Regions from separate parts of the Homo sapiens genome. Here region 2 is linked to region 1. The links come from fine-mapping of genetic effects on gene expression. A gene starts in region 1. The other region holds a variant in brackets. All regions are shown on one strand. Distances are from middle to middle.

Region 1 (15,505 bases):
ACTTTGTCTTGTCCTGATAAACTGATACACGTGATAATAAAATTGATCTGCTTCAAATTAGGCAATCTACTAGTTACAATGAGCTGGGAATCACCAGCCACTTCAGAACCCAGTCCTGCAATGCTCTTCTCTTGTGCTTTTAATACATTTTTTAAAATCCAAAAGGTACAGGAATGAGCATGCCAAGAAACTTTAGTCCTTTGCTCAAGATTATGTAAGACAAGGCAAAGGGGGAAACAAAACTCAGATTCCTAATCCTCTTTTCAATTAAACCAAGGCCTCGGAGAAAGAAACCAAGAAGAACGAACGAACATAGTTCAGAAAGAAACATAACTAGTGTGCATTCATAATTGGATCACTATGGTACTATAGTAAATATCTGCTAACATACACAGAGACCTGTGAAACAGGGGTACTTTTAGAGAGGCATCAGAGTGAGGCAGTTAAGAGCATGGCCGGGCCCGGTGGCTCACGCCTGTAATCCCACCACTTTGAGAAGCCAAGGTGGGCGGATCACGAGGTCAGGAGATAGAGACCATCCTGGCTAACACGGTGAAACCCCGTCTCTACTAAAACTACAAAAAATTAGCCAGGCGTGGTGGCACGCACCTGTGGTCCCAGTTACACAGGAGGCTGAGGCAGGAGAATCGCTTGAACCCAGAAGGCGGAAGTAGCAGTGAGCCGAGATTGCGCCACTGCACTTCAGACTGGGCGACAGAGTGAGACTCCGTCTCAAAAAAAAAAAAAGAACATGGACTTTGGACCAGACCCCATAGACATTAAAATCCTAGCTCTGTCTCTTACTTGCTATGACTTCTCCCAGCAAATCACTACCCTCTGTATCTCAGTTTTATCATCTGTAAAACAGACATATAGGGATATCTACCACACAGGATTGTTGTGAGGTTCAAATGAGTTCAAATGAGGTTTTTATGGTTCAAAAATGGTCAAATATCAGCAATTTCATATGCTTCAGCAGGACACATGGAAAGCACTTAGAACAGTGCCTGGCACCCGGTAAGTGCAATATGAGTGTAATAATCATTACTATTACAGTCTCAGCACACTACGCTAGGGTGAATCCAAAGCCCATCCCAACCACCTATTTGCCTTCTGCAATGTTTGTGCACCTCAAACATCCCCAAGCTCAAACAACCCCTAAGAGTGCTGCCCAGGCAGTCAATCCCTTCTCTTCACCTCTTGGTTGCCCTGCACTTCCACACCCTGAACACTTCCTTCTTTAGAGCTCATTCTGCTGCAGGAAGTCAGACGTCTCTGTGAAATAGAAGTAACCACACTGAACCTCAGAGAAGCATGACTCCTTCGGTCTCTAGTCCCTACTTTTCTCCAGATGTGGTAGAGTGGCAAAAGACCCGGGATGTCCACAAGGGAAATCCAGGAGTTGAGATTTTCTAGGATCAGCCACCATCCTGATCTTGAACTAAAGCAATTCCAGGTACCACTAGGATTTGGTGCTGATATTCACAAAACAACTGAGGCCTGAAAAGGGCACAGACTGGCAGGGTTCAGTGACCCGGAGTAAAGAAGGAAACACTTCCCAACTACTCTGGACCTCAGTCTCCCCATCTCGAAAATATCCTCTTATTTCCTTACCTACCTCCCAATGTCAGGTTCTGAAGAGCTGAGGAGGATGTGAAGACCATTAGGAAGACACTGAACATCAGTAATAAAAGATGCCATCCTACAGTGGGGACACCACCAACAGCATCCTCTGAAATGCTACCCTCCACCATCCCCTCCCTTGCTAGACCCTCAACCTTTCCTCGCATGCTTTCAGCCTTAGGCGCAAAGCTTTTCCCCTCCACAGATCCCCCCACCGCACCCCTCAAGTGGGACTTCAGACCCTTAGAAAGTCCACCCGGCCTTCCTCTTGGCCAGTTCTCGATCCACCCCCTTAAAGAGATCCCTCACAGATTCTCACCCTGCTTCAGCATTCGCCCCCACCTCCGTGAGTCCCTGCTTGGATAGCGTTCCCCCGAGTGGCCCGGCCTCAGCAGGTACTCTCCCTAACTTGTCCCCACGTTCCTCAGCACAGTCTCACCACAGCGAGTGCTCCCTCTAACCGGTCCCAAGTCTAACCTCCTTAGCAGATGCTCCCCTCAGCCGGACCCTCACCCACCAGACGTCCCCCCCCTCACTCAGCAGGTGCCCCATCGGCTGGGTCGCTTAGCTCCGGGGACTCCCACACAGGTGTATCCCCTCAACCAGTTCCCGCCTTTTCTTCCCCTGACCCCATGCCCGTCCTCTTAGCCAGTGGCCCCTCACCGGCGCGGCGGGTTCCTCAGCTGTACCGTCTCCATGGCGCTGCCAGCAGCCGCCCAGACCCGCTCACTGCTCCATCCTCCCGCGGACCTCCTGAGCCCGCCCCGCAGACCCTCCCACACTTCCGCTTTCCGCCCCTACCGGAAGCGGCGCGCGGCGCGGGAGCGGGGCGGAGCCACGGCCCTGATCACGTGGTTCGGGCGTGAGTCTTGTGGCGCGGTGGGGCGCGGACCCGGAACCGCCAAGTGGTGAAGGCGCCTCCAGGCGGTGCCCGCTGGTCTCTAGAGTGTCAGTGGCGCTGTCTTCCTGCGTTACCGGAGCGCACAAAATACTCGGTCCCCAGGCCGAGAACGCACCTCTACCTGGGTCCTGGGTCCCATTTCACAGACTGAGATGCGTGAAGCGCCTCCTTTAGAAGAGCTGACAATTCTTAGCAAACCAAGTTTTGCGTGATTTTGGGGAGGCGGCGCTGCCCCAGGAACGCCTGGAGGTATTTGTGGTTTTCTGCCGCTTACCTGGTTGAACTCTGGTCCCAACGGGCCCCCTGCACATTTTCTCCTACAATGCATCAACGCGCAAATTGCCCCACTGTCTTTCTTAAAGGCCTCCCCTTTAAGTCAGTTTGCAGACATAAAAATAAGCAACATTAATTAAGCATTTGCCGTGTACTTGTCTTCATATATTATCTCATTTAATCCCCTGTGTCAAGCCGATAAGGTCATCCCCGTTTTTATTTATTTAATGATTTAACACAGTCCCTAAACGTTTTCAGTGCTTTACCTCATTTAATACTCCTAACAACCTAGACGGTATTATTATTATTCCTACTTCATAAGGCCAGAGAGGTGAAGTATCTAGCCCAAGGTCACATAGCTTAGAGTATAGGTTTGGGGATTTAAATCCAGTTTGGTCTGATTTCAGGGCCTGCACCACCAAACTGGACAGCCATGGGTGTGTAACCTCTTTTTGGGCCTGAGAAACAGACCTTTCTCTCCACTCAGAGCTCCGGCTTCAGCTATTGTGCTTCCGAATGCCACTACCATCAGTAAGTATTAGGAAAATGGCAGATTCTACCCAATTGACCCATGGGGAAAGTTATAGGAGAAAACTTAACCAGAGCAACCTCTCACTGTTTTTAATTGCCTTGCTTTTCCCAAGGATATGCCATCTACAGAACTTAACACCTGAGCACCCACCCTTCAGGGCCACCCATGGGCCCAAAACGGGATAAAGGAGCCATTCCCTGACATAGGAGGAAAACATTTGCTGAGAAGCTACTGTGTGCCAGACACAATCTTGGACTTTCACTTAATCCTCAAAACAGCCCTAGGAAGAAGTACCTACCGTTAACAGATAAGAAAGCTGAGACCCACGGTTTACACAGCTAAGGAGAGCAAAGGTTTTAACCCAGGACTGTCCTGACTCCACAACATCAAAGTTGTTGTTTTGTTTTTGGTGTTTTGTAGAAACAGGATCTCCCTATTATTACCCAGGCTGGTCTCAAACTCCTGGGCTGCAGCAGTCCTCCCACCTCGGCCTCCCAGAGTGCTGGGATTACAGGCAAGAGCCACCACACCTGGCTGATGAATAGGAATTGGGTAAACATTTTTGAAAATTAAATACCAAATTACCATTACACAATGCCAAACAGACCTCCTTTGTCCCCTTCCCAGGATTTTTCCAGAAGATGGACTCACATTATGATGGCCCCCTTTTTCCGCAGAGTGTTCCCAATGAAAATTTCTGAAATGATGGGAATGTTCTAAATATGTGCTGTCCGAAATAGTAACCATTAGCCACATATGGCTATTGAGCACTTTAAATGTGGCTAGCATAACTGAAAGGCCACATTTTTATTTAAATTTAAATTTAAATAGCAAACCGTGGCTAATCATAATAATAGCTTAAGAGAGAAATGGTGAGCAGGGTTACTGGGAGAGGTATTTTCCTATAAGCTCTGGATATACAGTTGACCTGGGAACAACAAGGGTTTGAGCTGCATGGGTCCACCAATACAACCCTTGTTTTGTTTTGTTTTGTTTTCAATAAATACAGTCAGCCCTCTCTATCAGAGGGTTCCACATCCACAATGAAACATGGTTGGAAAATACAGTATGGGATGTGAAACCTGTGTATAGGGTGGGCTGACTTTTCGTTTCCATAGGTTCTGCAGGGTCAACTATAGTACATGAGTATACTCACATTTTAGTATCCTAATAGATCCTCAAACCAACACCTGGCAGAAAATGGGGAACAATTGCATAACAGTATTCAAGGGACTGGGTATGATGGCTTGCACCTGTAATCCCAGCACTTTTGGAGGCCAAGGCAGAACAGGAGTTCGAGACCAGCCTGGGCAATATGGTGAAACCCCTTTTCTACAAAAAACTTAGCCAAGCATGGCATATTTGTGTAATGCCATTTGCATGACCCACATGGTCACCCTGGACCCCGTGGATCAGGCCCTGCCTGGTGCCACCACCGCCACTTCTGTGCCAGGCCCCCAGTGTGATGCAAGTTGCATGATGCTCTTTGCTGTAGTGCCTTTTAATGGCATAGCTTTGGCAGGTTTGGAGATGTTCAGAATAGGCAAATCCTGTGGTGGATTTGTGGTTGTCTAAGGCCCTGGTGGAAGGGAGCATAGGTGAATTGGAGGGGATGATTAAAAGGTGTGAGATTTCATTTTGGGGTGATGAAAATGTTCTAAAATTGGTTGTAGTAATGGTTATACAACTCTGAATATACTAAAAGGCATTGAATTGTACACTTTCAATATGTGAGTTATATCTCAATAAAGCTATTTTACAAAAAAAGACACCTCTTCCCAGAAGACTTCTCTGTTCCCTTGTCCCTCCCCTGACCCTCTCATCTGTCCCTCCTTCAAATTATTTCAGTACTGTTTTTATCAGTCCTGGCATTTATAGGAAGCACTGCAGGAAGGGATTTCCAGGTATTGACTGCTGTGTAAGAAACCACCCCAAAGTTTATAGGCATAGAACAACAGTCTTTTTTTCTTCTCAGAAATCTACAATTTGAGCATGGCTCAGCAGGAAGGCTCATCTCTGTTTATGGTGTCAATCAGGATCAATCAGCCCTGTCCAAAAGGCATTTCACACAGCTGACAGGTTGGTGCTAGCTGTTGGCTGGAAGCTCACTTGGGTCTGAAGGCTAGGGGCGTCTCCATTTTTCTTGAGCTTCCTCACAAAATAAAGCCTGGGTTCTAAAGCATGTTCCCGAGGGAGAGCCAAGTGGGATGCTGCAGTGCCTTTTAGTGGAAGATACTTAATGTCATTACCACTGTGGAGGGGGGCCACAAAGGCCCACCCAGTTTCAAGGAGAAGGGATGCAGACTCCACCTCCTCATAGGGCAGTGGCAAGGGTCTGGAAGAGCTTGGGGAACCAGAAATATTATTGGGGCCATTTTTGGAAAATAAAATTTGCCACAGCTACACTTATCCGATAAACCACTCAGGAAATATTCAGCTGCAAGCAAGTGAAAACATCTAAATGTTGGCTTAAAGCACCATGGCATTTACTGTTTGTTTTGAGACAGAGTCTCGCCGTATTGCCCAGGATGGACCACAGCAGCCCAGTGATCTGGGCTCACTGGATTCAAGCAATTCTCCTGCCTCAGCCTCCTGAGTAGCTGGGATTACAGGCGCATGCCACCACGCCCAGCTACTGTTTGTATTTTTAGTAGAGATGGGGTTTCACCATGTTGGCCAGGTTGGTCTCAAACTCCTGACTTCAAGTGATCCGTCCACCTCGGCCTCCCAAAGAGCTGGGATTACAGCTGTGAGCCACCACACCTTGCCTTTATTGTTTATTAATAAGCTAATAAGTCAGCAGTTGATTCAATGACTCAGCAATATCTATTTCATTTTTTCCCCTCCCATCCTACTCAGCATGTTGGCTTTTCATACTTGTGTTTATTGCCTCATGGTTGCAAAATGACTGCCACACCTCCAGGTATCATATCCTTAACCCAGCACTACCCAAAGCAGAAAAAGAGCAAGAATGGCTACTTGACCCAGTACCTCTCTGTTATGGGGAGGGAAACCTTTCCCATAAACACTCAGCAGACTCTTTTTTTTTTTTTTTTTTTTTTTTGAGACGGAGTGTTGCTCTGTCGCCCAGGCTGGAGTGCAGCAGTGCAATCTCAGCTCACTGCAACCTCCACCTCCCGGGTTCAAGCTATTCTCCTGCCTCAGCCTCCTGAGTAGCTGGGACTACAGGTGCGTGCCACCACCCCAGCTAATTTTTTGTATTATTAGTAGAGATGGGGTTTCACTGTGTTAGCCAGGATGGTCTCGATTTCCTGCCTTGTGATCCACCCGCCTCGGCCTCCCAAAGTGCTAGGACTACAGATGTGAGCCACTGCGACCAGCCTCAGACTCCCTTTTATCTCATTGCCCAGATCAGCATCACATGTGCATCCCTTGATGAATCACTGGCAAGAGAAAATGACATTTTTCTAATTGGCTTAGAGCAATCCTGATTCACTTCCCCAGGCTGGGAGAGTCTCAGGCAAAATTCAGGCTCCTGGAAGCAAAGATGGAAGTCACTGAGTAGCCAGCCAGCAGCATGGGCCTCATCTGGTTTTCCCACCACAGTCAGTGTTCATCCTTGGTCGGGGCAGAGGGCAAGGGGAAGCATTTCAGATGGAACAGCCATCCAGCCCTCAGAAAGCTTATAGTCTGGTGGAGTTAAGTGTATGCAGATCATTATAACTGAATTCCTGAAGGTAGAGACTAGATCTTTATCAATCAATGACTTTTATTGGATGCCAGACCCTATTAGGGTCTTGGATAAACAAAGATAAAAAGGACCCACTTCCTGCCATTAAAGACCTCGCAGTGTTTAAGGAAAACTACAAACTGGCAATCAAAGGGTGACTAATGCAAAGTTAGGGATAAAGCTAGAGACCAATAGGGAGCAAAGGGAGCATAGTGGGGGGTGGGGAGGGGGCTGGAAGCAGGAAAGGCTTTCAGAGAAGATGATGTTTGAATGGAATGTTATAAGTTAATTCAGGATTAGGCAGGAGAAAAAGTATTTAGAAAAAAAAATCCAGGAGAAGGAGATAACAAGCAAAGGCTAGGAAGCAAGAATTTAGTGTGTGTAGATAGCAATGCGTGGGACATAGAGTCGTCAGATGAGGCTGGAGATAAATTGAAGTCACACTCTGTGAAAGATCTTCATCCATTCTGAAAGCTGATCATACGAATTGGGTCATTCTTGTCATATCCAACTAAGACAGAATTGAAAAGCCAGGGGAACAAATACTCAGGGCATATAACATTGCTCCAAAAAAGTAATTTTTTGCAAGCCTGGCTGCTAAAACTGCCTGCTGTAACCTAAAACCAGTTTTATCTAATAGCTACTGAAACAGCCTGCTACAATTCTGAGTTTTATCCACCACTATCACTTACCAATCAAAGCTTGCCAGCTCCCCAAGAAGCTGATAAACCCCCACTTTACTAGTGCCTGTAAACTTCCTTGAAGAGCAATATGTAACATTTCTGTTTTATAAAAATCTCCAAACCTTCTCTTTGTTCTTCTGACATACCAAAGACAACCTGGTCTGTGTGTAAGCCCTGAATTGCAATTCTTGATTGCCAAATAAAATATTTAAACTTTAGAGATTCATCTCTATATGTTGACTTTGACACCATCAATCCACCTGTGCATTAATTTATTAAATAAATATCTATAGAGCACTAGGTACCAGGTACTTTCTAGCCTTGGAACCTTTGCACTTACCATCCCTCTGGCTGGAACAGCATTCCCTAAATCTTGTCTGGTCTCAGCTCAACTATTACCCCCTGAGAAAGGCCTTCCTTCATCCCCTTATTTAAAATAGCCCACACGTGGTCACTTTCCATTGCATTATCCTGTTTTGTTTTCCTTACAGCACTAATCACATGAAATGAGAGTCTTCGTTTGCTTATCAGTTAATTGCCTGTGGGGACCCCACTAGGACATAATCTCCCTGATAGCGGGGCCAGCCTCCTTCCCTGCGTCATCCACGGCGTTCTAGCAACTCAGGGAGCCCAGAGCATGCTGCCGCCCCGCGTGCAAGGGAGCCTAAGTTCCAAACCGAGCACGCGCAGAGGGCGGGACGCTCCGGGCCTCCAGGTCTCGCAGGCCCCGCCCCCTCGCCGCGGGTTCGCTGTTGGGCGGAGATATTCGCCGCCGGCGCTTGCGCCCGGAAGGTGTGCCGCACCACACGGGGGAGGAAGGAAGGAGCTCCCAACTCGCCGGCCTGGCCACGGGATGGCCCCCAAATTCCCAGACTCTGTGGAGGAGCTCCGCGCCGCCGGCAATGAGAGTTTCCGCAACGGCCAGTACGCCGAGGCCTCCGCGCTCTACGGCCGCGCGCTGCGGGTGCTGCAGGCGCAAGGTACGACCCCGGCCCCCATCTCACCTCCGGGCCTGCTCCTCCAACTCCCGCAACCACCGCCCGGGCCTCGCGCGGCGGCCAGCAGTCCTGCCCGGCCCTCCCACCCTTCCAGCCCCTTCCGACTCCGGCATCCTACCAGAAACTTCCTCGGCCCTTTCTTTCCACCTGCTTGTTAACTGCCCTGTTGGCCCCCATCCTAAGTTATTTAGGCCTCGTTCTGAGCCCTGAGAAGAAAGCTAAACCCTCCTCCCCCGCAGCAATTCATTTTTCAGTTAGTATTTGTTGAGTAGCTGTTATATACCGCCTGTGTAACAAGACACAAAAAGTCCCTTCTCTCAAGGACAGCGCATTCTTGTGGGGGCGGTGGGGAGGACGTGAGTCTTAAGCGAGTCAGTAAGTAAACGAGACCTGTGGGATAATCAGGGTTAGGAAGAAGACAAATAGGGTGATGTGATAGAGTTGACTGGAGTGGGAGATCAAGGGCAACATCTGTAAAGAAGTGATATTTGAGGTGATGTCTAAATGATGAGAAGCCAAGCGCACAAGGTTTTCGGTCCTGAAGTGAACTGCAATGAGAAAGGCCCCCCCTCCAAGACGATATAAACATGGTGTGTTTCAGGGGTCAAAGCATAGTGAGCCAGGGCAGGGAATAGGAAGACATGAGGTCAGTTAGGAAGGCAGACCCTTATTTATTGTGGAGGTGTTGTAAACTCTGCTAAGGAGTTCGGATTTCATGCCAAACTGGAAGCTTGGCATGAAAGCTGCTGGATGGGAAGCTACTGGAGAGTTTGAAACAGAAGAATAGCATATTCTTACCAGTTCTCCCAGCGTCCAGCTTTCGTCAGCATACCGCAGACCTTTGCCCAAAGCCCCTTCTCCAGGGTGACTTAATCAGAAACCCTCATTGGTTAAAGCCTTGACTTTTGAAAGGAGCCTTGGATCCTGGTTTCTGTGAGTCACCGTTCAGTACCTATTTCCCTTTGCCGCCTTCCTTTTTTTCCTTTTCTTGGCTAGCATCTCTTGAGTGATTTACCATGTGCTAGACATTTTAGACACGATCTCCTTTGATCTTTATTATGGCCCTGTGGATAAAATGCTTAGAAAGGAGGAGTCCAAGAGAGTTAAATTGGCTCCCTCGGGGTTACATAGTGAAGACATGGAAGAGCCACGATTTGAATATGGATCTGTTTGACTTTGATGCTAAGTCCAAATTTTTAATCATTTTGCTAGACCTCTCCTCACATCCTCTCCAGATTTCATTCTTTTTTTTTTTTTTTTTGTCTGCACTTTTTGCAGTTTCAAGCCACTCCTTTGCCCCCTTCTTTGTTCTAGAAAACTCTCCTTTAGGCCCACTTCCTCATGGCAGCCTTACTTGATGAAGTTGCTGAAGAAGCTGAGGTATTGATGTTGCTGCCATTTTCATTCATCTCACCCCAGCTGGTCTGGAAAAGCTTGTACATTTGTATGGGTTAATTCTGGGTCCATAGAAAAGCTAGCCTGGTATCTAGATTTAGCAAGGACCGGAGTTTGGTTCTGCTGCTGCTACAGATTTCCTAGGTAATTTTGGGCAAGTCTCTTGATTTATCTGATCAGTCTTCTTGATCACGAAGAGAGCTCAGGGAACAGGCTAACACAATGAACCCTTCCAGCAAGTCTATGAAGTGATATCCTCATGTGGTAGGTGGGCACGCATGATCAGAGGGATGGAGTGACTTGTCCGGATCGCAGGGTTGATGCCCTTTCCACCGCACCACTGCTGTTTCTGAGCAACCGTACTCTGGTGACTCAAGATGGATTACAGGTTTTGGGTACTTAGCTCCTTAAGGGCAAGGATGTATTTTACTAGTCTTTGTACTTTCCGTCTCTGGGCCTGGCAAAACAAGAGGGGAAAACGCTTGTTATTGTTGGTATTGAATGAAAGATATCAAATATCAACATGGCAACAGGATACTGAGTGAAAAAAGTAAGTTGCAGAAGGATAGGCAATATGATGCCTCTTAGGAAATGCTTTAATAGACATAAAATGGTATCTTTCCTGTTAACACACACACACACACACACATATATATACATATACATATATATACATGTACATGTATACATATATACATATACATATATACATATATATGTAAATGTAGAACATGCTTGAAAATGTTACATACCAACTTCAGGATTGTACTGGCCTCTGTGAGTCTGGGGAGGGAGCACAGGGATAAGGATGGGGATGGCTGGAGTTTTAGCTTATCAAAAAAATTTTTAAGGGTTGGGTGCCATAGCTCATGCCTATAATCCCAACACTTTGGGAGGCCAAAGCGGGAGGATCACTTGAGGCTAGGCATTCAAGACCAACCTGGGCAACACAGTGGGACTCTGTCTCTACAAAAACTTTAAAAATTAACTGGGCTTGGGGGTACACACCTGTAGTCCTATCTGCTTGGTAGGCTGAGCTGGGAAGATCACTTGAGCCCAAGAGTTTGAGGCTGCAGTGAGCTATGATTGTGCTACTACACTTCAGCCTGGGCAACAGAGGGAGACGCTGTCTCTAAAAATTAAAAAAGTTGGGAACTAATATAACGTGCTAAATCTAGTGGTGGATTCTGAGATAATGGTCTTCTGTATGTTTCAAAATTTTCAAAAAGAGACCCTGTTTTCAATTCTTTTTAAAATAATGGCCGACACTAGTGGGTATGAAGTGGTTGAAAATTATCTTTAAAAATAAAGATCATTGTTGGTTGGGCACGGTGGCTCACGTCTGTAATCCCAGTACTTTGGGAGGCCGAGGCAGGCGGATTGCCTGAGGTCAGGAGTTCAAGACCAGCTTGGCCAACATAGTGAAACCCTGTCTCTACCAGGCGTGGTGGCGAGTGCCTGTAATCCCAGCTACTCAGGAGGCTGAGGCTGAGGCAGGAGAATTGCTTGAACCCAGGAGGTGGAGTTGCAGTGAGCGGAGATCGCTCCACTGCACTCCAGGCTGGGCAACAGAGCAGGACTCTGTCTCAAAAAAAAATACGTAAATAAAGATCATGGTGGCCACAGTGAAGGACTTGAGCCTCTGCGATTCCTGAGGGTAAGGACTGCCTTAGAAGAATGTCTAATAATTCTCCCCATGGGGTAGCTTAAGACTTTTTCCTGATTAAGTTCTCTGTACTCCCATCACACCCAGCTCAATTATCATTTCCCTGACAAAGTCCTCCCTGGCTTGACCAGGTAAAACTAGTCTCATGTCTTTCATGGGTGTTTTGTGCCCCTACAACTTTTGGTCAATCCATTTATCATACGTTTATCATCTTGTTCCCTCCCTCCCTCCCTTTCTTTTCTTTTTTTTTTTTTCTTTCTTTCTTGGATTTAAATGCTTTTTGTAATAAAATACACACCTATCCATCCATTTATCCACCCAAACCCAAGTAGTTACAGCATGGATTTCTTTGAGGCAGAAGCTAGCTATTTCTTGTTTATCTTTTGTCTGTTATCAAGTTCAGTGCTGGAATGAGTGAATGAGGAAATACTTGGTTCCCTTTGAATGGCAAAAAGCGCAGTGTCCTTCTGTCACATAAGAATGACAAACACGCCAGCCCAGCAGACCAACAAGCCTGAACAGGTTATAGTTATCTCTACTGCCTTAACACAAGGCCCAAAGAGCTCTGAGTTTGAAATGTATCCTAATGCCCTGAGGCACCCATTTTCCAAACTGATCATCTTCCCCACTCTATCTGGGCAGGTTCTTCAGACCCAGAAGAAGAAAGTGTTCTCTACTCCAACCGAGCAGCATGTCACTTGAAGGATGGAAACTGCAGAGACTGCATCAAAGATTGCACTTCGTAAGTGGCCAAGGGTAATTTTGGGATGCCTGAGGGTCTCAGAAGAGGAGGCTGGGTTAATCTGGCTTGTTTCTTCTTTGGAAGGATCCCATCAATTACATCTGGGACAGATATTAAGAAAGTGTCACTGAGTTTCACCAGGTCACTGAGAATGGGAGTCTTTATTTGGTCCTTATGGCCCGTGACTTGCATCTTTGGAGTCTTGGCTCTGCTGCCGAAAAAGGAGTGGGATGGGCAGTTAGAAGCAGGCCGTAAAGTCTTTGTGCAATTTGAAACCTGGGAATAAGGTGGAGTGGCAGACCAGTAACTGGCTTGCCCAGGTGCTTTTCTGGGATGGGAGTATGTGAGGGGAAGGGAGCGAAGGAAAGAAGGAGGAATAGAGGTTAATAGATTGTCTCAGAAGGAGAAAGGAAAAAAATGGTATTCATGAATGACCAGTTTTAGAGGACACTGAACAATGTTTCATATCTCTTTTTCTTCAAGCCAGTCTAATATTCTTTTATCATCATTAAACTCTCACATTTACCTGAAATGTGTTCTCAGATCTGATGTCCTCTGACATTGCTTTAGATTCCTGCCCTGGTGATAGCCAGGAGAGCAGGAGGGGTGTGAGCATACTCACAGAGCCTGTGCTGAATTAATTTGTGCCATGCCTTGTGCCAGATTTCCCTCTTTGAGTGTTCACAACCAATCTGTGGGGTACGGTTACCATGTGTCCCAGGCCAGAACTTGGTTGCTGAGGGTTGGGGCAGTAAAGTGATTTACCTGGGTCACATAGTTAGCAGCAGAGGTGGAATTCAGACACCACCCCATCTGACTCCAAAGCTTGTTTGTTATTCCCACTAGACCACAACTGTAAAAAAACATAGTAGCATGAAAGCCATGAGGCTTTTGTTCTTGATTTTGGGGGAACTGAAACTATGAAAATTGATGCATGTGCACACACATTTAACAAAATTCATGTTTCTCTGCCTTCTTTCTCCTCCTCACTTCAGTCTACGTTGAAAAATCCCTGTTCTGAGGTTTGGCGTTTTTAGCCATGTCTCTCGGCCAGAAATTACTTCCTGTACGCTGAGTGCTCCAGATAACCCTGCCTGGAAGAAACTGTAGGGAAACCCTGGTGGCTCAGCAGCCAGCCAGTTGACATTTTTGCCTCCTATTCTAGAGCACTGGCCTTGGTTCCCTTCAGCATTAAGCCCCTGCTGCGGCGAGCATCTGCTTATGAGGCTCTGGAGAAGTACCCTATGGCCTATGTTGACTATAAGACTGTGCTGCAGATTGATGATAATGTGACGTCAGCCGTAGAAGGCATCAACAGGTGAGCTCCATTCCCAGCAGGTGGTCTCCACGGCAACTCCCTGTCCTTCTTGATTGGCTGCGGGCCATTGCCTTGTCTGTCTTCTGAGGGGATCCCTTTGGCTACACTTAAAAAACTCCCGATGGGCATGTAGGGGAAGCTGAGAAAGGAAAATCTGCTTTTTTATTTAGCAGGTTTTCAGGGAGTCAATTACTAAGATTGATTGATTGATATTTGCCTACATGTGCCTCACAGTATCTATGTACACAGTAATATTTATTGTACACTGTTTAAGGTGTTGTGCCCGGTTCAGTGGGGGATACCAAAATGAGAAAGAGATACAGACCCCACTTACCTTCAAAGCGCTAACGCTAATTAGAAGAATAAGACACAAGCCCAAGCAGCTATGACAAGCCTAAAAGGATATGGTTTGTGGACATGGTTCAGTATATTGCACTGTGACCAATCCAAGAGGTTCCCCAGGTGCAATTCCTTTCTGGTCTCTGAGCAGTTATTGGCTTTTATCTCATGGATATTGTCATTTGTATAACTGATCATGTTTCCCCTCTGCGTGTGCGGCTAGAAAGCCAAACACTGCACTAATAGCAAACCCTTAACAGGGACTTCATGGTATGTATTTAGTGCTTTATTTCTGGCTTGACTTGTCTGCCAGCATTCTTTGTTTTCTCTTTGCCTCCTTTTTAACTTATCTGATTCCACAAAATCTACCAATTATGTGACAGACTTTGCTCTAGGACCTGGGCTGATGACTGAGACATACCTCTTCCTGCCGTCATAGAGGTCCCGGTCTCAAGGAAGACACCAGTCAGTAATAGGCAAGCACAATACAACATGATAAGCGCCATGGTAGGAGGCAGCACAGGGGGCTCTGAGGCCAGAAAGGAGCCACCTAGCTAGCTGAGAGGGAGAGGGGGAGGCCAGAGAGAGCTTTTCAGAGGAGGTGAGCTAAGAATGAGAGATATGGGGTAGGGGGTTAGCCAGAAGACAGAGCAGCGTGTGCAAAGGTGAGCAAGTGTGACAGATCACAGGAATTGTAAGAAGTCGGTTTCACATGGTGCTGCAGGCAGGAGCTCAGCTTGGGACAGGTTGGTGAGGCCAAGTCACACAAGACCCAGGGTTCAGGGCTTGGACTTAATCCTGAGCAAGTCAGCCTTTATGAAAAGGTCTTTAGCAGTGGAGCAACATGAGCAGATTTGTATTTTAGAGAAAAGCTCTTTGCTGCCATGTTGAGGGATGATATGAAGGGCAACAGAATAGAAAGGAGTCATGCAGCAATCCAGGGGAGAGGGTGGAGAGAAAACAATGGGACCAGTCAGGGGACATGTAGGAAGTATATCAACAAGCTTTAGTGGTTGCGGGGTATCGAGAAGGGAGGAATAGAAGAAGACACTCAGATTATTGACATTCAGTCGGAGGTGACTGTGGGACATAAGACTAGAGATCTAAGTAGGACGGTTGGGTATTTACATGGAACAAAGGAAGAAAATACAGGCCAGACATAAGGATTTGAGGGTCATCAGCGCAGAGGTGGATTAGGGCTGTGAGAAAGAAAAAGAACATCACAGCTAGTGTGAAGAGGATGGAGCTTTGAGAAACTCCAGCATTTGAGGGACTTACAGAGGAACAGCAGCTAGAGAGGTGGGAGGAAACAGGGCATTGATGTCCCAAGGGAAGGAGTATTTC
Region 2 (15,505 bases), 130 kb before region 1:
CCATCCGGCAGGTTAGCAGGTGAACTTACAAGCCTGCCGAGTCCAGGCTTAACGTTCAACTGAGATGCCGTCCTTTGTGCCAGGCACAGGGCTGCACACCAGGTGTACGTTTCACATGCAGTGTGACTATCCCAACAGCCCTGTGAAGAAGGGCTTACCGTTATCTCTTTTTCCTGGGGAGAAAACTGGGGCATAGCTTTGCTTGTCTTTCTTTTTCAAAACGAAGAAAAAAGACAAAGATCACTTTTGATATATCTATCAAACATCAAATTATATATATCACAAAGATGCGCAAAGCAGGATGCTAACTGGCTTTCTGCTAGAGCCTTTCTTCTGGCACTATCAGGGGGCTCTGATAACCATAGGTCACTCTTAATAGGTAAAGTCTAGGAATAGCCCCAGGAGCTAACACTTACTGAGCACTAAATCTGTGCCAATTTCACATCCATTATCAATTTAGTCCTTAGGAGAACTTCCTCAGGAAGATGCTATTATTTATTCTCTTCCCGTAGATGAAGAAGCTGAGGTTGAAGGGTTGGCTCTGTAAAGCCTGGTTGCAGTTTACTGAGCATCCTCCTTGTGCCAGGTGCTGCATTGTGGGTGAATCACTGCCCTGGCAAGCTTGCACTCAAGGGGGGTGAAATTAGCATGGTTTGAAGAGGGAGGCAAGGCGAACGGCGTGTGCCGAGGCCTGGAGAGAGAACAGGATGAATGCTGGGAGGAGGACATGGAGGGAAGGAGATTCCCAGAGATGAAATTGAAGAGTCGAGCGGGGCAGGGCACCGAAGGGTCATGAAGTCTTGGCACATGATTTTGGACTTGGTCCCGAGGGTATAGGAGAGCTCGTGAGAGGTTTAAACAGAGGTAAGGGTTATTGTCACTGCTTTGCAGAGGTGGAAACTGAGGCTCCCAGAGGTGACAGTGCTTGTTGGAGGTTCCTCAATAAGCAGTAGAACCCAGAGAAGAACCCACCTGTGCCTGGCTCCAGCACCTCATGTTCTTTCTCCTAAAGCTCCATGCGACCCTACTGATAATCCCCAGACAATGCTAAAAGAAAGATCCCTTCCACCCATGGCTTAGTAAAGCCTCTTGTATGCCCTCAGGATACTGGGTGCTGGCAGATGACCTAGGCAGAATCCTAGGGCAGTGGGCAGGTATAAGGAATTACATTCAGCAGACCCCCTGAGCTCAGCATCTCCCCAGGGAAGATCCCTGTGCCCCAGAACGCTGCCCTGTCCCCTCCATGCAGAGAGCCAGGGCCTGACACTACTAGCTTTGTCTTCAGTAGGGGAGAAGAGTATTACTAATCAGAGCTGCCAGGGTCTAAGATGCAGGTGTAATATACTCCAGATGAGAGCCTTGCTACTCAAAGTGAGGCCCCTGACCACCAGCAGCTTTCTCATCACTTGGAAGCTTTCTAGACATGTAGATTCTCTGGCTCTACCCAAGACTATGCGATTGCGTTCTGCCAAGACCCCTGCATGATTCCTGCACGCATTAAAGTTGGAGAGACTCTGCTTTAGACTAGGGGTTCTCAGCCTCGCATTACTGACATTTGGGACCAGGTAATTCTTTGATGTGGGAGCTGCCCTGTACATTTTAGGATGTTTAGCAGTATCCCTGGCCTTTACCCACTAGAGGGCAGTAGCACACCTGTCCCAGTTGCAACAACCAAAAATGTCTCTAGACGTTCCCAAATGTCCCTTGCGGGGTGGAGGCGGGGAGGTGGTGGGCAAAACCACCCTGTTTGAGAATCACTGCCCTAGAGCTTGGCCTCAGGGACAAAGCAAACATACACAGCCATAGGAAAGTGAATTCTGTGGGTGGTCCAGGGGACTTATGTCCTCTCAGCTTCCTGGAGGAGCAAAAAATATTTTTATACTTTTCAGACCAGTCAAAAGTACATGAAACCAACTCTTTGCATTGTGGAATATAAACTATGGTTCTCTTGGTTCTGCAACAGTGTAAAAATCACAAGCTCTTCATTCCCTGGCTGTGGTGCCACCAGTAACCCCGGAGTTGGAAAAAACAGCTGTAGCCTAGCAGATACCTTGGACAATAGAACTTAGGCCTGTGCGCAATACCAGGGGGTTTTGCTGCCAACTGTAGTTGAAAGGTCTTAGTTTAAAGTCAGGGGACCTGGGCCTTAGCACCAGCTCTATCTTGCTGACTTTGGACCTGTCCTTTATACTCTCTGGGCCTCAGTTTCCCCATATGCCTAATACCAGGACTGTAAGCCCATCCACTCTGACTTGGCTTTCTACATTCTCTTTCAGCACAGCTACCGTGAGGTGGGCATCTTGCTGCTGTACCTGGCTGTGGGTGTGTCAGTGTTCTCTGGTGTGGCCTACACAGCTGAAAAGGAGGAGGACGTGGGCTTTAACACCATCCCAGCCTGCTGGTGGTGGGGCACAGTGAGCATGACCACCGTGGGCTATGGGGATGTGGTGCCAGTGACGGTGGCTGGCAAGCTGGCAGCCTCAGGCTGCATCCTAGGGGGCATCCTGGTGGTAGCACTCCCCATCACCATCATCTTCAACAAGTTCTCCCACTTCTACCGGCGCCAGAAGGCTCTGGAGGCAGCCGTGCGCAACAGCAACCACCAAGAGTTTGAGGACTTGCTGAGCAGCATTGATGGGGTGTCGGAGGCATCTCTGGAGACATCCCGAGAAACCTCTCAGGAGGGACAGTCTGCAGATCTAGAGAGCCAGGCCCCCAGTGAGCCTCCACACCCTCAGATGTATTAAAACCAGGGATCCGTGACCCCCTGCCATGCCCCTACAGTAGAGATTCCTCCCCTGCTAAAGTTCTTCATGGTAGTGAGCCTCCCAGGATCACTCATGCTGTCCTGAGAAATGAGATTCAAAAGCTGCATTCCTTCCTCCAAAGGCCCAGGACAGGACAGTGCTACCCTAGATTCTGTGAGATTCTGCAAGCAACTCAGAAAGCTTTATAAACCTGCCTCCAAGCCATTCATGAAGCAGGCATGAGCCAGAGGGAGGAAGTTGAAAGGATACTAATGATTCCTGAGCACCTCCTGTACATGAACCAGGTCATGTTTGGCCTTGTGTTGGAGAAAGAGAATTATCCCCACTTCACAGATGAGGAAACCAAGGCTAAGAGATGAGCGATGCCTCTCCCAGATGTCACAATTAGAAGTGGCAGAGTCAGGTTTGGAATCTGGGCTTGTTGGTGTGCCTGGAGCAATGCTCCATCAACTCCATCTTTCTTCTGCCCTCATGAAGTTTGCGTGTGTTTTTTGGTGATTCATGGATCCCCAGAGTTGATCCACAAGATAAGAAATCCCTTTCAGAGCCAGGGAAGGGTCCAGACAGGAGATTTGGATATAGGAGCTCTGGATCTCAGCTGTGGTTCCTTTCTAGGAGCATCCAACAGGAGTCAGCAATCAAAGATGAGTCCTGGAGGGAAGGAGGATGAGTCCTGGGAGGAAGTACCATAGCATTGTACTTGCCTCTTTAGCTGGTATGCAAGATTTGCTAAGCAATAATCTTCCGACCTTCCTCCCAGGGCTGATGTGAGAGAAAGAAAATCTGAAGGGCCCCTGGCCTGAGATCTAGACAACCTAGCTGCGCCAAGACCTGCTGTGTAAAGTGGTCCAATCCCTGCCCCCAAGTCCAGATTCCAGCCCCTCTGTCAAATGGTCAGAATCTGTGACCCAGAGGGCAATGAAAGCCAAGGAGAGCAGAGGGGTCTCTAACTTAAAGCCAGCTCAGCTCTGAAATGTTCAGAGGGCTGACATATATGAATACTGGCTTCTAAGACCCTCCCCCAACAGTCTGACCTTGGCAGTTCCTTTCTGCCCATCACACAGACGTCCAGCCCTACATTGTCCAGCCCTACCTAGAGTACCCATCCAGGCCCATGTGTGAGAGTCCTCTCCCTTCTGGCCAGCTCCAGCCCCCTCACCCTTGCTGGGGGCATATCTCTCATACCCACCTGCTGAATCTTCTCTTCACTTGCTGAGAAAGTCAGAGGAGGGGATCCAGTAGCCCTTTCCACATACTGTGGCTACAGCACCCAGCACTGTGCTGTTGTTGTCTGACTGTGGCTATCTCTGTCCCATCACCCTGAGCCTCAAGATGGAAGACATTGTCTGCTTGAACTCTGGGCTTGGTGCAGAGTAGGTATTTGGTAAATGTTGAATAGATCAACCAATTCCTACAGCCCACTGGGTGCCAAGCTCAGAGGGGGAAAAAAAGATAGCCAGAGAGAGACCTGGCCCTCAAAAAGGTGTGAACAAGACTGAAAAGGAGGTCCGTTCAGCTCCGCCTGCCCTGTCCCTGCTTGGTTCTTGAAGTTTTTACAATATATTCCTTGTAGGTTCTTCACTCACTCACTCAACAAATACCCGTTGGAAGAGTCTTAAACTGGGGCTTCATGTGTGGCCTGCAGTCATGTTTCGGCTTAGTCCAACAGTGTTTTTATTATATTTTAAGAATCTGAATGCCTTTGCGTGAGGCATGCACTCTCAGGTTCCCCATAGTGTCTCCCCCGCTGCCACCCACAAACAGACACACATGCCGTTGTGTTATGCCCAGCCACTCTGATATACTGGCTTCTGACTTATGGGCTGCTTACTAGTCTCAAGAGATACAGTGGTGGAAAAATATATCCCTATACTCATGAAGCTTACCGACTAGTAGGGAAGATAGACTCTAATGCAATAATCACATAAATATAGCGAGCTCTACTAAGTACAGGTGTGTATAATGTATCAGGGACCATGGCCCGAGAAAGTGAGAAGGCTTTCCTGAGCAAGTGACAATCTAACCTGCCATCCAAATGATAAATTGCTAATTAAGCAAATGAGGTTCCAGGGGGGAGTACTCCAAGCAGAGAGAATGGCATGTGTGAAGGTGTGTGTCATACACAGGGCCTAGTACATAGTGGGCCCCCTACATACGCATGGATTCTGGGTCTCCAGATTGGAACAGAGGATGGAGCTAAGCAGCAAAGGGCCTCCCTTGAATTCACCACACACATACCAGCCCTTCTGCACACTCTGCTCCTTACATCTAGGCCCAGCTGAACCCAGGTTAGGGGCAGATCAGAAGGGCTGCGTGTAGCACCCTTATGGTCTTGCAGAACACACCAAGAAACCCGACGGCTTCCATATTTTCTGACCCTACAAACAGGTCCCTAATACTGATGTGGAGAAAGCTCAAGAGGGAATCATCTGGCCTGAGCCTACCATGAGGCTGTTTGTGGTCCTGGCAGAAAAGCAACAACTCGCTCCCCTTCCCATGTATCAGTGAAAACCATTATGCAAATAAAGAGCTGGGCCCCAGGACGTGTTTCTGCTTGTATGGAGATGGCTCCCTGACATGCTGTCTGAGTGATTGGAGAGGGTGGGCAATATGTGGAATGACTTGGAATCCACATTCTCAGGCTCCAGTCCTGGATTTGGCACAAACTTTGTGGTTGTGCCAGCCAGAACAGGTTGCAAGTGACAGGAATTCAGTTGGAACAAACTTGGTCAAAAAGGGTAATTTATAAAATAATTAAAGTGATGAATGACTGTTAACAATTAGAGTTTGAGGGTATAAGCAACAAACTGACATCAAGCAAAAAATGAATTTATTGGAAGATATATTAGTTTCCAGCAGCTGCTGTAACAAATTCAAACAAACTTGATGGCTTAAAACAGTAGAAGTGTATTCTCTGACAGTTCTGGAGGCCAGAAATCCAAAATCAAGATGTCAGCAGGGCCACCCTCCCTCTGGAGACTCCAGGGGGAAACCCTCTCCTTTTCTCTTCTAGTTTGTGGTGGCTGCCACCATTCTTGGCTTTCCTTGGCTGTGGCTGCATCACTCAAGTCTCTGCCTCTGATCTCACTTCAGTGTCTGTGTATGTCAAGTCTTCCAGTGCCTCTGTCTTACAAGGACACTTTTGATGACATTTAGGCCCACCAGGATAATCCAAGATGACCTCATCTCAGGATCCTTAACTTAACCACATTTGCAAAAAGACCCTTTCCCAAATAAGGTAATAGTTACGGGTTCCAGAGATTAAAATATGGACAGGTGTTTGGGGCCACCATCTGGCCCACTACAGAAGGGTATCTGTGAAATTCACCCGACCAAAGGAAGAGCTGACTGACGAGGCCTCAGGAAATACAGGAATGAGGGGAGCTCTAGGGACCTCAGTAGCAAGACTCATGAACCTTCTGTTTAAGACACTGCTACCCACATGATCTGCCTCCAGTCAACTTCCTTCCCTGTATCATCCTGCTCACAGTTCCAATCCCAGGAGAGAGTCTGATTTCACTTGAGTCATATGCCTCTCTCTTGGGAGGGATGGAGGGCAAGGTACCGTATTAGTATTTGCGGCAGTTGGAGGAAAGGTACTTACCCAAATAAAAGACCACCTATTGTCACCAAAAGAAAGGCAAAAGTTATTGATAAGCAAAAATAGCATACCATACACTCCCATCCTTTTCCCATACACACGATTTATGCATGTTTCTAACATAAGGAAACTCTCTTATATATAACCAACATATACCGATCTCCCCAAAGGAAAGACACCCTATGGGGCATATCCTGTTCATGAATCCAGCTATAAGTTCATTCTTCCACTGGTACCACTAATTCTGTCTCAATATCCTGTAATATAAGGAATAAATGGTAAATGTAACTGCCACCAGCATACCCTATATGATACTAGAGGAAAGGAAAAGAAAAACACAGCAAGGAGGAAAAGAGGCCATTGCTATGTCTTCATTTCTGTAATGGTCATAAGGCTGCTGCTGGCATTTATAACATCCCTTCTCTGTGAGCCATGTCATGCCCCCTGCCTTTGGCCAGCACTTTAGTTGGTTGGGATTCTTTTTTTGATGGGGTAACCTAAACCTTTATTCCTAGCGAATCTGAGCACTTGTTAGTCCTGCTGGCATGTGAAGATTCCCCAAGGAATTCCATGGAGTTACTTGCATTCCTTTCTGCCTACTTTGTGTAGCAGTAACCATATTTCCCCTTGACAGGGTGGTTGATTACCCTAATCAAGACTGTAACTCCCTTTATACACACATAGGGAAAAGAAAAGCTCCGAAAGTCCAGGTGACAGGCTCAGTCTCCGATTCAGGGTATTCTTCCTTGAGTACCAAAGAAGTATTCTTCCCTTGGGTACCAAAATCTCTTAAGTCAGCAGAGCTCAGAGTCATAGGATAGGAAGCAATAGATTTGCAAGTGGGTCATTGGGTTTAATCAGAAAACATGCAACTTGATTGAAAGCAAACTTCTCATGCAATCAACTTACATCATTAGGGTCTACGTGAGCCAAATCCCATGTACCCATGGATACACTTGATGATGGAGTCCTTACTAGGCATGCTTGACTTTCTATCTGGATGGATGATATCGTAGTTTGTCACGTTGGGTCATCAGATTACCTGATATCCCATAGTTAGGCCTTCATTCACCATCAAAGCCCAGTAGCAAGCCAGGATCTGATAGCGGTAGAAGCAACAAAATCCAAATTAACACTGTACTTCTTTTGTGGTGATAGAAGTACTACACATATGTCCAGGGTACTGGACACTCTAAGAAACTTCACTGAGATGCACTGGATTTATCTCCCACCTTGTAAAAGGTGTGTCTTACCTACAGAGCTGAAGTGTCTGCTCCTTTGTGCTCTCCAGGCCCTGTTAATGTGATTTAGTCAACTGATTTAGTCAAAATTAGTTTGCTGTCTTTTAGAATAGGGATATTCGGGGAATCAAGGCCTTCCTGTTACAGAGCTGGAGAACAGAGGTATGCCTGAGTTAGAACAGTAAATGAAAACTCTTATCCCTTCTAGGTAATAGCAAAATGCTTCCAGTGGTTTCTGTTCCTCAGAGTAGAGAGTGAAACTAGTAGATGCATGACTCCAGGGACTGTAATGATGAGCATATATCTAACACAACAGTTAAAAATGGAATTATCACCTGACTAAAGTAATCCACTGTCATTTTCCAAGACCCATCTAATTTTGCACCTACCAGAGGAAATTAATGGTGTTTTGATTGGAGTCATCAGCCTGCAAGGTCTTTGGTAGAAACACTAATCTCTGCAGCCTCCCCTAAAGATATGTTACTATCGTTGACTTTTCTATTTTGAAACAGTTGTTCAGTTGTATTCTATTGGCCTTTTATATCACAATGGCCCTCACTTCATGGGTCAGAGAGCCAATATGGGGATCTTTTCCAACTATCTCTCCGAAACTGCTGATATAGAATAGTTTTGGAATTCCATTAGGCCTCCAGTGGCATGGACAAAAGCCAAAACACTTTTTCACATGATAGATGGACCTACAGTGGTACTCTTGAACCCAAGAAACTGGTATTAGCTCGAAGTCTTCATCAAGGTTCCCTGAATGGTGTATTTCCCTTTCCCCAGTATCCATTTACCTTGGGAAATGGCCACAGATCCTTTTGGAGAAGGCAAGAGAAATATTCACATTACACTCATGCAATATAGCAGAGTCCTTCCTCAAAGGTGAGTAGCATATCCTTCAATCAAAGGGCTTTAGATCAATAAACGCAAGCCCAGTGTTACACAGTGGCTCAAGTCGTGACTTTTTTTTTTTTTGCCAGAACTAGAGGGTGTTTTTGGTTTCCATTTTGCTTTGTTTCTTATGTTTTGCTGGTTAAACAAATCAAGTAAGACTTTAGTGGGTTGCCTTTAACTTTTTAGGGCCCTACACTGTGGCAGTGTGCCACGGTTACTACTTGAGACCATCATTACGACAGCTTACTACTGTTACTGCCTGAGACCGTCATTACAAGACTGAATGAAGGGACGAACATAGAAATGAAAACTTAAGACAAAAGAAACTATTTTAAAGGAAGGGGCCGGGGAAGAAGAAGAGAGCTCCCCGCTTCTAGTGAGCAAAGGCAGCCCCCAAGCTTCCACAGTCCTTCCTATTTATTGGGTAACAAGAGCAGGGAGGAGGAGGTAATGATTGGTCAGCTGCTTAACTGATCACAGGTTCATATTGTTACTAACAGGCTTCAGATGTACCTAATCACAAGAAACACTATGCTTGGGACGTGACTGCCCTCAGCATTCCTGCCGGGTGGCAGATGCAGTTCGTCGGTTTGCCAACATTCTGCATTTATGAGAAACAGTTTGCTGCTTACTCATATAGCCTCCAGTAGTATATGGAGTTGATCA[C/T]GACCCTCATCATTTCGGCCTGTAACACTACACCATGAGTTCTTGCCTCATACAGAGCCTACTGAATATTCCAGTGATCACTCCCACTTCATTTCTGAGGATGAAGTGCCAACGCCTGGCCTCCCACATCTCTGCATTCTTCTTCCCCTCTGAATCAGGCAACCTATTTCAAATTGCAGCCCCTCCACCCAGCATTCTTGACTTTCCTCAAAGCAAGGGTAAAGTGTGAGGGCTACAGTTAGAGGTATTTGTGGGAAGGAGGCACAAAATAGATCCAATCCAGCCTCCTGTCTTTCAGAAATCTTTGAATCTCTTCTTCTACATGATGCCAAGGGATTTGGGGCCCTTAAGTTCCATTTCACGTGGGCCAGCATTTGTTTTAAGTTTGCATTAGCCAACTCATCACATTGTTAGAGCCTTGCCAGCTCCTGGAGCTAGCACAGAGAATGCCAAATAATCCCTGGCAAGTGAAACCATATCAAGAAGATCAGCCTGAGCCAAGATTACATTCCCCCTTCCTTGATAAAGCACCACAAAAATCCATTTCCACAGATACTTCCCCAAATTTTTGATGGTGTCAGTTAACAAGTTTCTTCAATTCTGTATGGGTCCAGGATTTTTACCTACTGTGTCTACTTGTCATGCTCTAGGCCAAACTGATCCCCACCTTCCAGCTAAGTAGCCTTGAGGGATGGGGCAAGCAGAAAATTGTGAGCTTTCTCCTCTAAGAAAAGGTGTGAATTGTTTGCACCCAGTGTTTTAGAGAGCTTTCAGTTTTCTCCCACATCCTCTCATATGATCATTCCACTTGTCATAATCCCACTGCCTATTAATGCCTAACTTCACAAAGTGCAGCAGGGCTGTGAATTCAGCAGCCTGCATCATCAATTGCCAACTTTGGTATTTGGAGAACTAGGCCCTACTGCAAGTCATAAGAGAGTCTTTTACCGTAGTCATAGAAATGCTGTCCGTTCATTCTGTTTATGAATTTTTTTTATGTTAAAAAAAAAGGCATTGGGGCTTCCTTTGTTGACTCTCCCTTTATATTAATCTATGTGGTTAGAAACAAAATACTCTATCACACAGCCTGAACACTCCTCACTTCCTTAAAATTAACTGTGACACGTGTTATCCCTTCTCTGAGAGCCTCCTCAGTGGTCAGATGCTATGAAGTAATGTAAGACATAGGTCTTTACCATTGCAGACCATTGCTGGCTTCCCAGACTAGAGCATGAGCAACAACCTCATTGTATTTTGCCCCATCACAGTCTTAGGAAATATCCCACATTTCCTAGAGGATATGGTGTCTACAACTCAACTCTAGTTCCAATTTCTGTATCAGTTAGGAATTTTTGGTTGCAAACAACAGAATCCAACTCTGGAAAACTTAAGCCAAAAAAGGACTGCATTGGAAAGGTACTGGATAGGATCAAAGTCAAATTAAACAACAAGGCTTTGAGAAAGACAGCAATTCGAGCAACATAGGGATTGAGGTAGGTAAAACTCATAAATCACCTCTTTGGGGCACTACAATTAAAATAGCTTAGTGACAACTGCCTCCATTGTATAAATCACTCTGCTCAAGCTAAAAAATTCTCTGAAGATTGAGTCTAACTAGACTGGTTTGGGTCATATGCTCATCACATGATTTCGGGGTGAGATGGGAGGAACTATCACAGACAGTCCCACCAGGACATAGATGGCAGAGGGGTAGCTCCCTGAAGGAAGATGAGGGTCCTTTCATTAAAATGAGGGGAAAGGATCCAGGGGAGACAAAACCAACACATATCTTTTACAATACCACTGAGTGAGAATGGCAGCCAGGCAGCTTGGTTTCAGCAACGACGAAATCAAGAATGAGAGAGAGAGACAGAGAAACAGATAGACAGACGGAGAAATTGGTTTCTGCATCACATGGTAGATAACAGGGTTACCAACATCTCCCAGTTTGGTATCTTGTAGCGCCTCCACTAGAGAACTTCCCATTTCCAGTTTGAAAAATCTGATTGGCCCAGAGATTGGTCACCTTGGGTGAGATGACTGGATCACTCAACTGTGGCGAAGGGGTTGGATCATGTGAACCTATGGCTGGGGTAGGAGTCAAGCAGTTCCCAGAAGAGGGAGTACAGGACGGATCTCATAGTAATCCCTTGCAGTCTTGCTCTCTTGGTCTTCAGTTTCAACTTCTGTAAAATGGAAGGATAATGTCCAGAGATGTTAGGGAGCAACTGGGGGCATGTGGGACAGCTCAGCACATCTGGGCTCTGAGATGTGATGTGCTTGTTGTTAATGATAAACAAACTGAGTTTCCCCCTCTTTGCAGTGACCTCAAGGTGGCGACTTCCCTTGTGAGTGAGACATAATATTCCTTAGGGATTATCAGATTGAAGATCTGCCCCCTCTCCAGCCCCATTTTACAGATCAGAAAAGAGAGACCCAGAAGTCCAAGGTCAGACAAGAAGCAAATCCCATTCCTCAATCCCTTTGAGTAAGAAGAGCTGTTCAGCTCAAATAAGGGCCAAGCAGGGTGTTTACACTGGGACATCAGAGTGGAAGACTCCAGTTGACTTATATGGTACTCTTTGAAGCCCCCAAGAGTGAAGATAGCCTAGCAAATAATAGTCATCCTCCACATATCCTTGTCACTGTAATTTGCAAAGTGGTTTCACATACATTATCTCATATACTTCTCACAACAACTCCACAAGACAACAGCAACAACAATAAAATAGTAGTATCACCACTGAACAGATGAAAAAACCAAGATCCATGGTCAGACAGTTAAAAAGTAGCAGATCAGGGATTCAAACTCAGGCTTTTTAATACCAGATTGTACTCACTCAGCACCACTTCCCACTATTATCACTTTGTCTGGTAAACTTAACTCCCCAGGCACCACTGAAGGAAGTGGCTTTGAAGTGTGCGTCCTATAATGAGTTTCTTCTATCTGAAGGCTCTGGAAACAGCCCTGAGGTGCTGGCTGGGATGGTCCTCAATACCAGACCTCATACTTCAGGCCAGTCCGGCCCTGCCTGTGTGGAAAGAATTCTCCAGGAAGTTAGTAAGTTGAGAAGATAATCTTCTAAGACAGGAGTCTTTGAGAAGGAAGGGGAGGGGGTGGCACAGGGAATGTCTTTCAGAATCCTGTCTGCTAGAAAGGAAGAAAAGGACAAGGGCAGTTGTAGACTGGTATTTAACCTTGCTCAGAAGGGTAGAGTTCAGAACCCTCAAGAAATTCATTCATTCAAGAGGAAGAATTGCACACACCTTGGTTTTTGAAGTCACATCTGGGTTCAAATATTGGCCCTGCCACTCATCAGTGTGTGACCCTAGATTGGACCTGTTGACCTCTAAGGGGTATTATTATCAGGACCAACCCCCAACTGGTATCCAACCCCCACCCCACCTCCCTGCCATCTTTTCCTACATACCTAGATCAATAAGGAATCTTTCAGGTACAAGTGAAAGAGACCCAACAAAGTGACTTAAGTACAGGTGGATCCAGAGGTTCCACTGAAGTCATCTTGTCATTTTTCCCTGCTTCTCTCTCTGCTCTGTGTTTCTGTGTTGGCTTCAGACAGTGAGTTATTTACAATATTTGAATAAAATGGGAGAATATGAGGGATGCCATGCGATGCAGAGGAAAGAATGTGGTTAAGTCCAGCAAGTTGGGCTTGAATCTGCTTCTTATGAGGTGTGTGATCTTGGTTGGGTTTCTTTGTCTCTCTGAGCCTGTTTCTTCACTTATCTTGGTTTAATAACACCTACACCTCAGAGCGTTATGGGCAAGTTCAAGTAAGATAATATGTATGAAAATGCCTGGCACAAGGTTAAATATTAAAGAAGCCCAAAAAATGCAAAGCAAGGAAATAGAGCTCAGCAGCCTCTACCAGGGCTCTTGTTTTCCTCTGGAGGGCAAAGCAACTCCAAGCAGAGGGCACTGGGAAAGGAAGGGGTTTGCTTATCTAGAGATCACAACCTGGACTCACACTTGAGGCCATAGTTGGGGTCCTGGAGTGAACACTGGAGTCAAGAAGCCTAAGTTTGAATCCAGACTTGACACTGCCAAGTCTTGGGCCTCTGTTGGATCATTCATCAGAACAAGATGTGGCTGGGATAAATGCTCATGGGCTAAGAGTAACCACCCCTTACATCTGCAGAGGCCTAGGTAGTTTCCAAGGGGCCTTCCCATCCATGGTCTTGGAAGCTTCTAAAAGAGCCCAGTGGAGTAGAAGGCAAAAAGTCTTGTTTATTCAAGTATAAAATACATATGGGAAAAAAAAGCACAGATCCTAAGAGTTCACATTGATAAATTTTCTCATCATGAACACACTTGTGTAACAAGCACTCAAAGAATTAGAACCTGAGTAGCACTGTAGTCCCTCCTCATACTCACATCCAGTCACTACCCCACAACCAACAAAGGCAATCGTTGCCCTGACTTTTAACATCATAGAGTAGGTTTCCTTGGTTCTGAACTGTATATAAAAAGAATTGCACAGTATGTACTAGTTTGTATCTGGATTTTTTATTGTGGCAAAATACATATAGAATTTACCATTTCAACCATTTTTAAGTGTAAAGTTCTGTGGCATTAAGTACACTCACATTGTTGTAAGAACATCTGTCTCCAGAGCTTTTTCATCTTCCTCAACTGAAACTCTGGGCCCATTAAACACTAACTCCCCATCCCTCTCTCCCTCCCTCTGCCAACCACCATTCTACTTTGTCTCTATGAAGAGACCTTGCTACTCTAGGTACCTTATGTAAGTCCAATCATGTATTTGTCCTTTTGTGACTGGTTTATTTCACTTAGCATAATGTCCTCAAGGTTCATCCATGTTGCAGCATGTGTCAGAATTTCCTCCTCCTGAAGGCTGAATAATATTTCATTGTATGTGTAGGCCCTATTTTGTTTATTCATTCATCCATCGATGGATGTGTCTAGCTTCATTTAAATGTTTGAGAGATACAGCCATATTGTTGCATGTAGTGAGAGACTGAATGTACAAATGGACAATCCCAGAATATATATATAAATAGAACTTTGACCCACAACCTGCAGTAACCTGCCCAGGAAACCAACCCCATATCTACAATAAATAGCCCAGGTTGCCAGCCTGCTATAAGTCAGACTTGCAGGAAGACAGATTGCTATCTCCAGTGGCAATCCAGGAAGCTAAACAATAACTTCTGTAACAATCAAGCCAAAATGGTCAGGACTTGATTAATAACTGACAGCTTCCCCAATTTTTGTCCCCACTTCCAACTTAGGATCAAACAGAGAAACCAAATATGCACCCCTAAATCAATCACATAGGATGTCCTGCTTCAAGTTAGCCCACCTACAGCTTTCCCATGCCAACAGCTTCCAACAGGGCATCCCTGAAGCCTTCCTTTTTTTTCTACTTTCCCATTCCTTTGCCTGCCTTTGAGTCTCTGCCAAAATGCAAGTAACAGTGGCTGACTTCTTTGCTGTAGCAAGCTCACAATACCCTTTTGCTTATTTCCACAGTAGCTATAGGTAGCTCATTCTCGTTGTATAGTATTCCACTATGCGAATCTACGTAATTTATTTATGCTGCCACTGGGCATCCAGATGGTTTCCAGTTTGGCAAAATTATAAATAATGCCATTATGAATGTTCTAGTATATGTCTTGTGGTAAAAAGGCATACACACTTCTGTTGAGAAAATACCTAGGGAAGGAATGCTAGGTCATGGGTATATTCACCAGTACTCGAGTTCCAGTTGCTCCATATCGTCACCAATACCTAGCATTTCTATTTCTTCCATTTTAGTTATTATGGTGGGTACACGGTAGTAATGCATTAAGGTTTTAATCTGTGCAGTTGTCCCTTGGTATCTGTGGTGAATTGGTTCCAGGAACTCTGATGGATACCAAAATCTGCATGCAGATGCTCAAGTCCTTGATATGAAATGTCCTAGTATTTGCATATAACCTATGCACATCCTCCTGTATAATTTAAATCATTTCTAGATTACTTATACCTAATACAATGCTACACAAAATGCCTAATGTAAATGCTATGCAAATTACTGTTATACTGTATTGTTTAAGGAAGAAAGACAGACACAATTTTTTTTTCTTTTCTGAGATGGAGTCTCGCTCTGTCACCCAGGCTGGAGTGCAGTGGCACAATCTCGGCTCACTGCAACTGCTGCTTCTTGGGTCCAAGCGATTCTCCTGCCTCGGCCTCCCGAGTAGCTGGGATTACAGGCCTGCCACCATGCCCAGCTAATTTTTGTATTTTTAGTAGAGACAGGGTCTCACCATGTTGGCCAAGCTGGCCTTGAACTCCTGACCTCAAA

The links.
Region 2: its variant is fine-mapped to the expression of TOMM34 in whole blood (TOPMed, PIP above 0.99).

Annotation. Positions count from the first base shown.
Region 1 is chr20:44,953,385-44,968,889 of GRCh38, reverse strand. TOMM34 (translocase of outer mitochondrial membrane 34) reads left to right here and starts at 8,493. Exons shown (of 7, transcript NM_006809.5): 1 at 8,493-8,683; 2 at 12,405-12,504; 3 at 13,670-13,822. The coding sequence starts at 8,557. STK4-DT (STK4 divergent transcript) reads left to right here and starts at 2,432. Exons shown (of 3, transcript NR_038341.1): 1 at 2,432-2,773; 2 at 3,205-3,328; 3 at 3,442-5,096. It overlaps LOC124904912 (a long non-coding RNA gene), which reads right to left and starts at 13,674. Exons shown (of 2, transcript XR_007067599.1): 1 at 13,270-13,674; 2 at 9,353-10,553. It overlaps STK4 (serine/threonine kinase 4), which reads right to left and starts at 2,378. Exons shown (of 11, transcript NM_006282.5): 1 at 2,287-2,378. The coding sequence starts at 2,321. RefSeq lists silencers at 494-623, 2,304-2,553, 8,235-8,314 and enhancers at 1,084-1,163, 8,545-8,634, 8,645-8,694, 9,475-9,564.
Region 2 is chr20:45,082,112-45,097,616 of GRCh38, reverse strand. KCNS1 (potassium voltage-gated channel modifier subfamily S member 1) reads left to right here. Exons shown (of 4, transcript NM_001322799.2): 4 at 2,277-6,403. The coding sequence ends at 2,747. Among named protein-coding and RNA genes, the nearest start is that of KCNS1, 11 kb to the left of the region's middle. The variant C/T (reference allele first, on the strand shown) is at 9,174.